2 separate regions of the Homo sapiens genome follow, and region 2 is linked to region 1. Evidence: fine-mapped expression QTL. A gene starts in region 1. The other region holds a variant in brackets. All regions are shown on one strand. Distances are from middle to middle. Region 1 holds the start of ZFP41 (ZFP41 zinc finger protein). Region 2 has its middle 4.0 kb from the start of LY6D.

Region 1 (2,900 bases):
CTAAGCCTGGCCTTCTGGCCCACAGAAGCCTTGAGATAATAGGCGGATGTCGTTTTAGGACACCCAATTTGCGGTACGTAGGGAACTAACACGCGGGGCTCTGGCGGGCCTGGCGGCTCAGTGCGATCTGGGCAGGCAGGAAGTGGAGTGAGCACAGCCAGCGGCTGGGAGCACATCCCGGAGGGGCTGCCTGCGGCGGGAGGAGCGGCAGGGGCCACGTGGTGGGGGACGGCTCGCCAGGGCGCGCACGCGGTGGCGGCGGCGGTGGAGGCGTTGCCCGCCTAGCTAGGGGCCCGCGGCCTGGAGAGGCGTCGGTTCTCCTTCCGCGCTGAAGGCGGAGACAGCGACTTCCCGTGGAGGCAAGCCGTGGGCGCCGCGGAGGCGGGGGCTGGGGGTCGGCGGAGGCGGGAGCTGGGGGTCGGCGGGGGCTGGGGGTTGGCGGGGAGCGTCCTCAGGGACAAGTCTCCCAGCACGCGGCCGCGACCTCCCCGTTGGGGGTCTGGAGCCAGGAGCCCACGCGCGTCGGATCCGGAGAGTCTGGTGGGCGCAGCCTACGTGACAGGGTCGGCTCGGGACCGAGCTGCTGGGGACTGGGCCTTGCGGGGCGGGGCCGCTGGGGGCGGGGCATGAGGGTGCCGGTTCGGGGCGGGGCTTTTTGGGGGCGGGACATGGGGCGGAGCCTGGGGGCGGAGCATGTGGGGAGGTGGCTGGGGAGGAACTTTCGGGGGCGGGACACGAGGGCGGAGCCTGAGGGGGCGGGGCATGAGGGGAAGCCGGCTCGGGAAGGAGCTTTCGGAGGCGGGGCCCGCTCGGGGAGGGACCTGATTTCGGGGGAGCCTTCGGGAGGGCGCCTGCCATAGACGACTGTAAAGGGGCGGGGTCAGCTCGGGGAGGACCCTGCGGGCGTGGCGGCAGTTATGGGTGAAGCCTGAGGGGGCGGGGCCTGATCGGGGCGGGGTCTTCGGGGGCGGAGTCGGCTGGGGATGGAGCCGCTCGGGCCGAGCCCTCCACCGCCCACCATCACCGAGTCCGGCCCAGGCTCCTAGCGCGGCCGCCGGAAGGGGCGGGTCAGCGGGCGGGCATTTCCTGCCGGTGCCTAGGGCCGACGGGGACGCTGGCACTGGTGGGGAGCTGTTGGGGGGTCCCGCATCTAGGGCTCTCCTTTCCTGCCTCCGGCCCCCGCGAGGGGCGCGCGCCTCTCCCCGCCCTCCAGCAGTCCTGGTAGGGCCCGGGCGCGTCCGCGCTCTGCAGCGGGAGGTCCTCGTCGCCTCTCGTCTCCAGCCAGGTACTCACTGGGCTCCTGCCTGCCGCCTCCGGCCCAGGACGCGCAGCGTCGGTATGGGCCCCGCCGCCTCCCCGCACCCCGGCGCTCCAGGGATGTGGCAAGACCCGGCTTTGAGCACCTCCCGGGCGCCGGCCCCGAGGCCGACCTAGCTCTGCACGTGGGCCGCGGGGCTCTGCCGTTGAAAGGAGAGCCTCTAACTAGGAGCACGCACGGGACCCTGGCGGGCCCCTCCGCCTGGCTCAGATGCCTGGCATCTCAGGCCTTGGCACAGCTAGCAGGCCCCTGGCAGGCCGTGGACCCAGCAGGCTGTTTTAGTGCAGATTGCCCCTGAATCTCAAGCCCACTAATGTTCCAGTCTCTCCATGAGACCCAGATCCCTGAAAGTAGTGGAGGGAGGCGCCAGGGTGAGTGAGGTTTTCTAGGCAGCCCTTACCGCCCACGGATACCCAGAGCTTCATATTACAAGTGAAGGGTCCTCCGCCCAGAGAGGCGACGGAGCTACGCTGGAGTTGCACGACAGAACCAGAACCCCAGTCTTTAGGGGTGTGGCAAGCGTGGGTTGCGCTGTTTGTAACTAGCTAATCACTCCTGTCTACAGGCCTGTGAGGTGAGGCCAAGAAAATCGCTATGGTCCAATCCGTTTTTGTTTTTTGCGTGTGGGGTTTTTTGTTTTGGTTTGGTTTGGTTTTTTTGTTTGAGACGGAGTCTTGTTCTGTCGCCAGGCAGGAGTGCACTGGCGCGACCTTTGCTCACTGCAACTTCTATCTCCTGGGTTCAGGCAATTCCCCTCCCTCAGCCTCCTGAGTAGCTAGGACTACAGGCACGTGCCACCACGCCCAGCTAATTTTTTGTGTTTTGGTAGGGACAGGGTTTCACCATGTTGGCCAGGATGGTCTCGATCTCCTGACCTCGTGATCCGCCCACCTCGGCCTCCCAAAGTGCTGGGATTACAGGCATGAGCCACCGCGCCCGGCCAGTCCACTCTGCTTTTAAGAAATATTTTATTTCTCAGGGTGGGCAGCGTGTAGAGAAGTGAGTCATTCCAGTCTCTGCCGGTTAGCACCTGCCAGCCTAAGTTGAGTCGACAGAGCCGTTATGGAGAATGTTCCCTGACCACAGTATGTGACTAGGATTTGGAGATAAAAAAGATACGATCCTCGCCTTCAGGAGACCCTGTCGCATAAGGAGACTGCCATGTCAGTGACCAGCCACACGTGCAGTGACAAGTGTCTGGAAGAAGGAACAGTGCTGTACAGCATGGAGGACCCCCACACAGGCCTCGGGCAGCAGCCGTTAGGCTCAGTGGGTTCACAAACCACCCCCCGCCCCGCCGTGGAGTGGAGTCTGCAGAGAGCCAGATAGGTTCCCGCCATGCCCTGGAGAGCTGCCGTTTCTCCAGCTCCGCCCTGCCCATGAGGCAAACAGCTGGTCGACTGGTCTTCTGTGCTGGTTCTTGGTTCTCACCTTTGTTTCCTACCAGAGCTGGACCCCGGCCTCAAACTCCAGCCAGCTTGGGCTGTGATCCTCTATCCTGGGCACCAGGGCCCACCCCCTGCCCACCCCAGCAGAGATGCTGCTTTATGCCTGCATCCTCCCTCAGCACACGTGGCCTTCA
Region 2 (2,900 bases), 460 kb before region 1:
AAGCACTTCTCACTATCACCGCCAGCCTTTCCCCCCTCCTCCCTCCTCTGTTCTCTAGGGCCTGGGCCCTCCCCCACTCCACCCCTCCCACTCAGCCCCTGGAGCTGGGGCCCTGGGCCTGGTTGGTACCATCAGGGTATTGGCAGCAGAAATGACACCTGGGAGAGGCGACGAAGGGGCCTGGGGCAGGGAAAACCACCGCCCCACCCCGTTAGCCTTGCCCCCTGCTCCCTGAACCAGGAAACCCGGCACGGGGACAAGCCCAGGCTTCTGTCTGGAGCCGAAGTTCCTTGCTCATGCCCCTTCCCCCACCTTCTGCCCCCTCTACCTTATGCTGGGCCCCTAGGAACACACAAGGGTGTGGTGGCTCAGAGAGGGAAGCGCCTGGCTTAGGGCGGCACAGCACCGTACTCCAGGCTTGCACCAGCCCAGCCCTGGGCCCTGTCCTGGCTGAATGGGTGCCTGGTGGACAAGGCGGGGCCCCGGGCTGGAGAAGCTGGCTGAGTGGGTGCCCGGTGGACAAGGCGGGGCCCTGGGCTGGAGGAGCTGGCTGAGTGGGTGCCTGGTGGACAAGTCAGGGCCCTGGCCTGGAGGAGCTGACTGAGTGGGTGCCCGGTGGACAAGGCGGGGCCGCGGGCTGGAGGAGCTGCCTGGGCTGGAGGAGCTGCCTGGGCTGGAGGAGCTGGGAAGCCCCAGGGCACAAGGAAGGGCTTCTTCACCCTCAGGCTGTTACCTGGGCAAGCCAGAATCCCAGCCACACCCCAGGGGTTCCAAAATGCATCCGTCTGCCTTGAGGCACTCCATTCATTCATTCATTCACTCACTCATTCATTCATTCATTCTTCAACATTTTATAAGGACCAACCATATGCAAGGCACTTTGGATATAATGGAAACCAGGAGAGAAGAGAGACAGGGCCCAGGTCCCAGGGCCTGCAGACCAGTAGGGAGTGGGAACAGACAATTGCTGCCTCTGTGGGACCCACAGCAGGGGTGTGATGATGTGGAGGGTGAGGATCTGGGGCTGAGAAGCCAAGGGAGGACCAACCTTGTTGGAGCTGTCTAAGCAGGGAAGGGTGTGTGGCCATTACCTGGTAAGCAGGTGGGTGTCGGGCAAGGGCATTGGGGCCCAGGTGCCAGGCCGCTTTTCTGTCTCTTTCCCCCGCAGGGGCAGGTGGCTGCCCCAAGCTGAGCGGCTGAGTGTGTGGTGTCTTTCTAGAGGCTGCCCTGATCCTCTCAGCCCCCTCACCTGCACAGATGGGGCCTCAGATGGACAGCAAGGGCCCGGCCTTGCCCGGCATCACCCAGCAAGCGGGAGCCACAGCTGGGCTGGGCCTCTGGGCCTGGGCTCTTCCCTCACACCTGGCCTCCCCACTCCTCTTTCTAGTGCCGGAGTCACCTTTACACATAGCACCACAATCTCAGGCAAAGTCTCTTTCACCTGCTTCCCAGGGCCAAGCCTGGCCCTGCCCTA[G/T]TCTTAGGTCACCCCCTGGGACCCTGGCTACCAGCCACCCCTCCCAGGGTACACCTAGTGTCCATGGGCCGGGCCGGGCCGGGCCAGGGGCCGGGGATGGAGGCCAGCTCTGCCCCTCCACACAGGCCCCTCATCCTTGCCAGGTCTCTCTTTCCTGCACTGCCAGGGGGGCAATCTAGGGAGCAGTTTCGTGGATGGAGAAACCCTTCTACCTTGGGGCACAGCTTGTTCCCAGCAAAGGCTGGACTGGGGCTCTAGGTTCCTAAGGCCCAAGAGAAACAAACCTGTTCCCAGGCCTGGCTGGTGGTGCCCACAGGCGGGGCTGGCACCTTCCCTGGGAGAGGCACCATTTCAGCACCTAGGACCGGCATGGTCCCTGCGAAGCGCTGGCATTCAGGGGGCTAGTCAAGGGTGCCCAGTGCCAAAGTCTGGGCGATGAGGGAGAATCCCTCAGGGTGTGAACTGTGTCCAGCCTGTGGTAGGGGGAGAGAGGTTGCAGCAGAGTGCAGCCCTGGAGCCACGGAACCATAGCGCAAACAACTGTGGGGACCTCAGAGTCCCAAGACTGCAGGCTGTTAGCATGGGCTTGCAGAACACAGAACCCTAGAATTGCAAGACCTAAGGAACCTGGATGAGAATCAGGTGCCCTGGACGGGGGTTATTTTCACACATTAGGACATGCTCCCACCAGCATTCTAGGGAATGTCAGAGGGTTTGTGTTAATGCTGAACTCCTGGGTTCTCCCCTCTGCTAGGCCACAGCTCAGTCTACTTCCTGTTGTGGCCTGGAACTTGTGGCTGCCAACCCTTAGCTCCATGAGGTAGGTTCAAGGCTGGTGAGCACAGGGCCCACCTCACTTTCCTCCCCCACTCCCCTGCCTTCATTTGCTCCCAATACATACCTGCTCATCCATCCTCTATCCTCCATCCATCCATGCATCCATCCATCTACCATCTGCCCACTCATTCTCCACTCATCCACCCACCCATCTATCCATCCACTCATCTGTCTATTCTCCATCCATCTATTCATCCCTCATCCAGCAATCAATCTACCATCTGTCTACCCATCCATTCATTCACTTATCCATCCATCGACTCATCCATCCATTCTCCATCCACTCATCATCCATCCTCCATCCATCCAGTCATCCATCAATCAATCTACCATTTGTCCACCCATCCATCCATCCATCCACTCATCTGCCCACCTTCCATCCATCCAGCCTTCATCCATCCATCCTCCATCCATCCATCCTCCATCTTCCATCCATCCAGCCTCCATCCATCCATCTTCTCATCCATTCATCTTCCATTCACTGATCATCCATCCTCCATCCATCCACCCACTCACCCATCTGTCCTCCATCCATTCATCATCCATCCATCCATCTATCTACTCATCCATCCATTCTCCATCCACTCAT

What was found.
Region 2: its variant is fine-mapped to the expression of ZFP41 in sigmoid colon (GTEx, PIP 0.99).

The regions. Positions count from the first base shown.
Region 1 is chr8:143,245,858-143,248,757 of GRCh38, forward strand. It overlaps ZFP41 (ZFP41 zinc finger protein), which reads left to right and starts at 1,082. Exons shown (of 3, transcript NM_173832.6): 1 at 1,082-1,285. RefSeq lists silencers at 177-336, 537-1,426, 1,467-1,516.
Region 2 is chr8:142,789,072-142,791,971 of GRCh38, forward strand. No RefSeq gene overlaps it. Among named protein-coding and RNA genes, the nearest start is that of LY6D, 4.0 kb to the left of the region's middle. The variant G/T (reference allele first, on the strand shown) is at 1,475.